2 linked regions of the Homo sapiens genome follow. The protein of the gene in region 2 purifies or fractionates together with the protein of the main gene of each other region. This does not show direct contact. Each region holds a gene or a part of one and is shown on either strand. Other genes may lie near its edges.

Evidence for each region.
Region 1: the proteins of CROT (region 2) and DDX19B purify together in Homo sapiens (affinity purification with mass spectrometry; one large-scale study listed by BioGRID and IntAct). This does not show direct contact.

The regions. Positions count from the first base shown.
Region 1 is NC_000016.10:70,326,522-70,330,342, reverse strand, and holds part of DDX19B (ATP-dependent RNA helicase DDX19B), read right to left. Parts: intron 1,052-3,821; coding exon 874-1,051; intron 513-873; coding exon 275-512; intron 1-274. UniProt on the Homo sapiens protein: ATP-dependent RNA helicase involved in mRNA export from the nucleus.
Region 2 is NC_000007.14:87,379,990-87,383,810, reverse strand, and holds part of CROT (peroxisomal carnitine O-octanoyltransferase), read right to left. Parts: intron 1,902-3,821; coding exon 1,818-1,901; intron 1,738-1,817; coding exon 1,630-1,737; intron 1,399-1,629; coding exon 1,268-1,398; intron 1-1,267. UniProt on the Homo sapiens protein: Beta-oxidation of fatty acids. The highest activity concerns the C6 to C10 chain length substrate. Converts the end product of pristanic acid beta oxidation, 4,8-dimethylnonanoyl-CoA, to its corresponding carnitine ester.

The sequences.
Region 1 (3,821 bases), on a different chromosome or scaffold from region 2:
AGTGCAGGGATTACAGGCATGAGCCACCGTGCCAGCCGCCCAGCTTATATTCTTAAAAATCTAAAAATTATTTCATTGGCTGTTACTTGGGGTTTTCTCCAAGTAATCACTAAGAAGTGGAATCAAAGTCTCCCTCTTACGACTCACTAAAACCTTAGGAGAACAAACCACTTCGTTTCTTCCCATGGCACCCAGGGGCATCCAGTCCTCCTGAGCCCTGTGGGGAGCTGGCTGAGAGGGAAGGGCCAGGCCTGCCACTGCCACTGCTACTCACATGGCAGAAGATCATGGCTTGAGCAATGGTGATGGCCCCGTAGAGGTTACACAAGGCCTGGAACTTCTCGTCTCTGCTGCTGCACAGGACATAGTACTGCTTGATGGTGTCCAGGGTCTCTTCCTCACGCTTCAGTTTGATAACGTTTGGGTCTGGGACCACTTTCTGGGCAAACTTCCACACAGAGTCTTCAAAGGTGGCGGAGAAAAGCAGCATCTGGCAGTTCCTGGGCAGCATCCTGCAAGGGAAGGCCCTGGTAGGTGGCCCCAGGTGGCCCCGGGAAGCGACAGAAGCACAGCCTTCCCAGCTGGGAGGGTCTAGATGCCCAGGAAGGCTGATGGGAGAGGAGCGTCTTGGGGAGGAGGAGCAGCAGGCCTGGGATGGGGACAGGGGTTGGGGGAGAGTCCCTAGGTCTCCTTTCTCAACCCAGGCTGGGAGGGACTGTGGCCAGCGCTGACACGGAAGTGGCCCGTCAAACAAATGCTGCTGAGAGTACGAGAGCCAAGACCCAGGCAGAAGCCAGAGGAGGCATCTGAAGTGAAGGGAGAAGACACTGCAGATGGGGAATCTGAGGAGTCCCCCACCCTCGAGATCCCTACCTCTGGATGCGGATGCTCTGATCTTGGTGGCCCTGAGTGGCTATCATGACATCAGCCTCATCCAGAACAAACACCTTGATTTTCTTGGGATCAATGAACTTGAGCTTGGAGCACCAGTCCAGCACAGTCCCAGGGGTGCCAATGACAATCTGCTCACTGATCTTCTGGCCTCTTTCCACTGTGGAGACCCCAAGATGTTTTCCATGTGTGGGTATTTCTTTCTTTCTTTTTTTTTTTTTTTTTTTTTGAGACAGAGTCTCACTCTGTTGCCCAGGCTGGAGTGCAATGGCATGATCTCGACTCACTGCAACCTCTGCCGCCCAGGTTCAAGCGATTCTCCTGCCTCAGCCTCCCAAGTATCTAGGATTACAGGCACCTGCCACTGCACCTGGCTAATTTTTTTTTTTTTTGTATTTTTAGTAGAGGTGGGTTTCACTCTCTTGGCCAGGCTGGTCTTGAACTCCTGACCTGGTGATCCACCTGCCTCGGCCTCCCAAAGTGCTGGGATTACAGGCATGAGCCACCGTGCCCGGCCTCCATGGGTATTTCAAAGGCAAAGCCAGCTCTTCTCTCTGAGAAATTCTAAACCTATTATATATTTTAATGCAAATGTTTTGCTGTTTGCATTAATATATTAAGGAAAGGTTAGGATATCACTATAGCATTTAATGGACATAAAAACAGACAAAAATGCTGAAAAGGTAATGGGTACAAAAATACAATTAAAATAAGTAAGATCTAGCATTTGATAGCACAATGTGGTGACTACAGTCAACAATATATTGTACATTTAAAAATAACTAAAAGGGCCGGGCACGGTGGCTCATGCCTGTAATCCCAGCATTTTGGAAGGCTGAGGCAGGCGGATCACCTGAGGTCAGGAGTTCGAGACCAGCCTGGCCAACATGGCGAAACCCCATCTCTACTAAAAATACAAAAATTAGCTGGGTGTGGTGGTGGGCTCATGTAATCTCAGCTATTTGGGAGGCTGGGGCAGGAGAATCGCTTGAACCCAGGAGGCGGAGGTTGCAGTGAGCCGAGATCGCGCCACTGCACTCCAGCCCGGAGACAGACTGAGACTCTGTCTCAAAAAAAAAAAAAAAAAAAAAATTCAGAATTCTCTACCCTTCTAATTCGAATACAAATTGCAAAATTTTAAATGATTATCTCCCAATAAGTTTCACTGTATTATTTACTTTTCAGAACTGGCCTCAAGTTGGCATTAGGACACTGTATGCAGACTTGATTTTCATAAGGTCACATTTGTTTCAGAGATCCATAAAACTCAACCAAACCTCTAACACTTTTTTTTTTTTGAGACAGAATCTCATTCTGTCGCCCAGGCTGGAGTACAGTGGTGCAATCTCGGCTCACTGCAACCTCCCCCTCCCGGGTTCAAGCAATTCTCCTGCCTCAGCCTCCTGAGTAGCTGGGATTACAGGTGTGCACCACCATGCCCAGCTAATATTTTTGTATTTTTAGTAGAGACTGGGTTTCATCATGTTGGTCAGGCTGGTCTCGAACTCCTAACCTTACAATGATCCACCCACCTTAGGCTCCCAAAGTGCTGAGATTACAGGTATGAGCCATCATGTCCGGCCAACAACACTTTTAAAATTACTTAAATAATATTAACTGTAAAACAAACTAGTGTAGAAAAAATTAGTAACAAAAAATAATTAACAGAATAAGCCCCAGAGTCAATAGCCATAAACATTCTGGGTTTTTATTCTGCTAATGAAGATAAATAAATTAGGCAATTAAACAAATTCAGTCCTGGCCTAGTGGCTCACACCTGTAATCCCATCACTTTGAGGGGACGAGGCAGGAGGATTGCTTGAGACTTGGAGTTCTAGACCAGCTTGGGCAACATAGCAAGACACTGTCTTTACAAAAAAAAAAAAAATTTGTTTGTTTTTTTTTGTTTGTTTTGTTTTGAGACAGAGTCTTGCTCTATCGCCCAGGCTGGAGTGCAGTGGCACGATCTTGGCTCACTGCAACCTCCACCTCCCGGGTTCAAGTGATTCTCCTGCCTCAGCCTCCTGAGTAGCTGGGACGACAGGCACATGCCACCACACCTGGCTAATTTTTCTATGTTTAGTAGAGATGGGGTTTCACCATGTTGGCCAGGATGGTCTCTATCTCCTGACCTCGTGATCCACCCACCTCGGCCTGCTAAAGTGCTGGGATTACAGGCATGAGCCACCATGTTTGGCCTACAAAAAAAATTTTTAGAAAATTAGCTGGGTGTGGCCAGGCACGGTGGCTCGTGCCTGGAGTCAGAACTCCAGCCTAGGTGACCTAGCGAAACTGTCTCAAAATAAAAAAAAGAAGGCGGCCAGGCGCAGTGGCTCACGCCTGTAATCCCAGCACTTTGGGAGGCCAAGGCGGGAGGATCACGAGGTCAGCAGATAGAGACCATCCTGGCTAACACAGTGAAACCCCGTCTCTACTAAAAATACAAAAAATTAGCTGGGCGTAGTGGTGGGCGCCTGTAGTCCCAGCTACTCAGGAGGCTGAGGCAGGAGAATGGTGTGAACCCCAGAGGCAGAGCTTGCAGTGAGCCAAGACTGTGCCACTGCTCTCCAGCCTGGGCGACAGGGCGAGACTCTCTCTCAAAAAAAAAAGAAAGAAGTCTGGGCACAGTGGCTCACACCTATAATCTCAGCACTTTGGGAGGCCGAGGCAGATGGATAACCTGAGGTCAAGAGTTTGAGACCAGCCTGGCCAACGTGGTGAAACCCCATCTGTACTAAAAATACAAAATTAGCCAGCCATGGTGGCAGGCACCTGTAATCCCAGCTACTTGGGAGTCTGAGGCAGGAGAATCACTTGAACCCGGAGGGCAGAGGTTGCAGTGAGCCAAGATCATGCCACTGTACTCCAGCCTGAGTGACAGAGCAAGACTCTGTTTCTAAAATAAATAAATAAAAATAAACAAATCTAGA
Region 2 (3,821 bases):
ATAAAGAAAATGTGGGCCGGGCGTGGTGGCTCACACCTCTAATCCCAGCACTTTGGGAGGCCAAGGCACGCAGATCACCTGAGCTCAGGAGTTAGAGACCAGCCTGGCCAACACGACGAAACCCCATCTCTACTAAAACTATAAAAATTAGCCAGGCATGGTGGCAGGCACCTGTAATCCCAGCTACTCAGGAGGCTGAGGCAGGGAGAATTGCTTGAACCCAGGAGGTAGAGGTTGCAGGGAACCAAGACCATGCCACTGCACTCCAACCTGGGCGACAGAGCAAGACTCTGACTCAAAAAAAAAAAAAAAAGTGATATACATACACAATGGAATATTACTCAGCCAAAATAAAAAAACAAAGAATGAAATCCCTTCATTTGCAGCAACATGGGTAAGGCTGGATAACTTTTTGTTAAGTGAAATAATCCAGAAATAGAAAGACAAATACTGCAGGTTCTCACCTATATATGGGAGTTAAAAAAAATTGATCTCGTGGAAGTAGACAGTAAAATGGTGGTTAACAGAGATTGGGATGAGTAGGGGGGAGAGGAGATTGAAGAGAAGTTAGCTAATGGGTATAATGGTACAGTTAGATGGAATAACTTCTAGTGTTCGATAGCACAGTAGGTTGACTATAGTTAACAATAATTTGTTGTATATTTCAAAATACCAAGAAGAGAAGACTTGGAACATTCCCCACACGAAGACGTAATAAATGGTTGAGGCAGTGGACATCCCAATTACCGTGATTTGACCATTACACATTTTATGCATGTATCAAAAAAATCACATGTACCTGATAAATATGTTCAATTATAACTTATTTATCAATGAAAAAGCAACATTGAGGGACTTCTACTTCTTCTTAGGATGTATTAAGTCACAAAATTAATGTCGCTCCTATTCTAAAAATGAGTAAAGGCTGGATAATTTATAAAATCACAACTTTTCATGAACCCATCAGAAAACTGACGTTGCAAGAAAACCAAGCGATCTGAATGCCAAAGATGACCAATCCTCTTTCAGATGAGAATAGACACGTCAAAAGTTATCAAGTGGATACTGTGATAAAGTAACAAGGAAAAACTGTGAAACCACCACAGATCAGAAATCTAATACTCTATTGATGGAAGTACAAATAGGACACAGTACCAGCTGGGAAAAAAGTGAGCAAAAATACTGAGGAGTTAGGATGAAATAGCTATAAAAAAAGATATACCCTTGGACTTCAAGACTGTGAAAATAGAAACTGAATGGTCCTTACTGTCCATGAAGTCTGTAATAGGCCAGCTGAAGTGCAAGCTGAATAAACGTATCCGGGTGAAGCATCTTGTTCTTGGTTAGCTTTTTGCCAAAAGATGTAAAGGCATAAGCCGCAATCTGTAGATCAGATGCCTAACAAGAAGAATTAAATGAGAACGGTGAAAAATCACCTAAGGAGAATACACCAAAGAGAAGCAAATTATCACCTGCATTAAAGTAATCACCAGACATAAAGAATTAAAGGTGTTAAAGGCATAATTTTAAAATGTTTTGTGCAGACATGCTTGGATGACAGCCAAATTTTTACATATGGTTGTTAAAAGAAAAAATCATTATTATTTAAGAGAAAAGTGAAAAATATACCTCCCTGAGATACTGGGCTTTAGCTTGGTTGATGTCATTTAAAACTTTCTCATCCACAATGAAAATGAGCTCTTCTGGAAGTGGTATATCTCGTACCTTCTCTGAACCCTGAAAATAGGGAAGACTTAAAAATATTTTATCTATAGAACTATTAGGAGAAAAAAGATGAAATATTTATTCAAACATACCTTCCATCTTCCTTCATTCTGAAAAATTTTCTCATCCACATAATAACTGATGTTCACCATAATCATTGCATCAAAAGGAGCATGCTAAAATGAGAACACACAAGATTTCTGAATACTTTATGTCAACTTAAAACTTGACCCAATATTTTATTTTCACTTTGTGTCCATTCTTAACAGATAATAAAGCATAGAGTCTTCAAATGCCTCACCTCTTGAGGATATGATAAGATAGAAGATTCCCTACAGTTCAGTAACTGCTATATTTTATTTTTTGGAAAAAAAGTTGTTTAAATTTGGAAGCACCTAGTAGGGCTTCTGGTGGGGCTTGGGGTCATGAGGGTGTATAAAATAACATATAAACAATCTAGATAAATTAATTGCTATTTTTACTAGAAGTCAAAGCAAGTGTATATATGCAACACGAAGATGTTCTGGAATTGTAAGAACAGGGTGGAAAAGCAGATGGGGATGGCAACCTATCTGAAAGCATTTGGGATGGGCATGAACTTCTTTAGGTAAGGACTTAGGCCACTTAGTGAATATTAGAAAGCATAACCATTTTGTGTTTTTTATACATATGAATGTCCCAATGTGATAATTCTCAGTTTAAGAAATGTGGGAAAGATAGGCTGGGTGTTACGGGGCTGTTTCAGGTTTGCCAGGTGTATTTAGAGAAAGAAATTGCAGTTAGTGAATTTTCCCATCATCTATTTTGAAGAACAAAGTTTTTGCCCGCATTTTCCCCATGTTCCTTAGATAAAAGTTACATCAGACGGTTCCTTGTGACTGTCACCACTTTACATTAGACACAGATATCATTCATGATCTGAACGTGACACTGCGAGCTTGGGAGGGAAAGAAGGGAAGTAGTATCAAGATATGGGCCCAGTTTCAGAGGAGTAATTAGGTGTCTTAAATGTCACCCTAACACTATAGCTCTGTAGCCTGTATCATGGCCCAGCGGAGCCTATAAACAGGATTTATTGTTACCAACCAGGCAACAACTACATCAGGAAAGGCTCTTGAGGGAGGTCAGTATAAGATGCCTGAGCAGTTTATCTGCCAACAACAGCACACATGACAAGACTCACAGGTCGCTGACAAACCCATTTTCTAACAGTATCTCACAACTGTGTGGTACTTTACAATTTTACAAAGAATTTTCAGATATTATCAAATATATTGTTTCATTTAAGACAAACAGCATCAGTTTCCAACTATTTTACTGGAGCCAGTAGGAAATAGCAAGAGTGAAGGATGTCTCTTTGAGCTATAATTCTAAGCACCCATCTCCTAATGGAAAGCTAATAATCTCAAAGAAGGTAGAAAATATATAAAATTCCAATGCTATCCTGATGCTTTATTTGTTCACATAATTTTTACCTTTCATTTCTTGCACTTACACAGAGGCAATATGTATTTACATAGTGTTTAAGAATGTAGGCTTTGGTTCTGAGTTCAAACTACTTCCTAGCTGGGCAATAGTAAAAAAGTTACTTTGCTTTCTAATTAAACTGCCTCATTTCCCTGTAGAGATAATGCATACATACATACAGATGCTGTGAAAAATGATTTTTATACCACTTACACAGTACTTACCAAGGATCTAGCTCACAGCAATAATTAGTAACTATTGTTATTATTAACTAAAGTTTTTACATGCTTCCTATGCACCCTCTGCAAAGCCTTACAATAAAGCCTACAATATAGAGAAGACAATATAGTTGACTTCAGGTTTATAAAATAGGAGGGAAATGGAATTAATATAATCACAAAAGAACATATTCAAACAATTAAAATTATGGACCAGCAACATGGCTTTAGGGTAAAATAAGCTTTATTTTACAGTACATATGCTTATTTTTCTTCTTATTATTATTTTTGGGACAGGGTCTTGTTCTGTTGCCTGGGTGGGAGTGCAGTGGTACAACCATGGCTCACTGCAACCTGGACCTCCTAGGCTCAAGTGATCCTCCCACCTCAGCCTCCCAAGTAGTTGGGAGT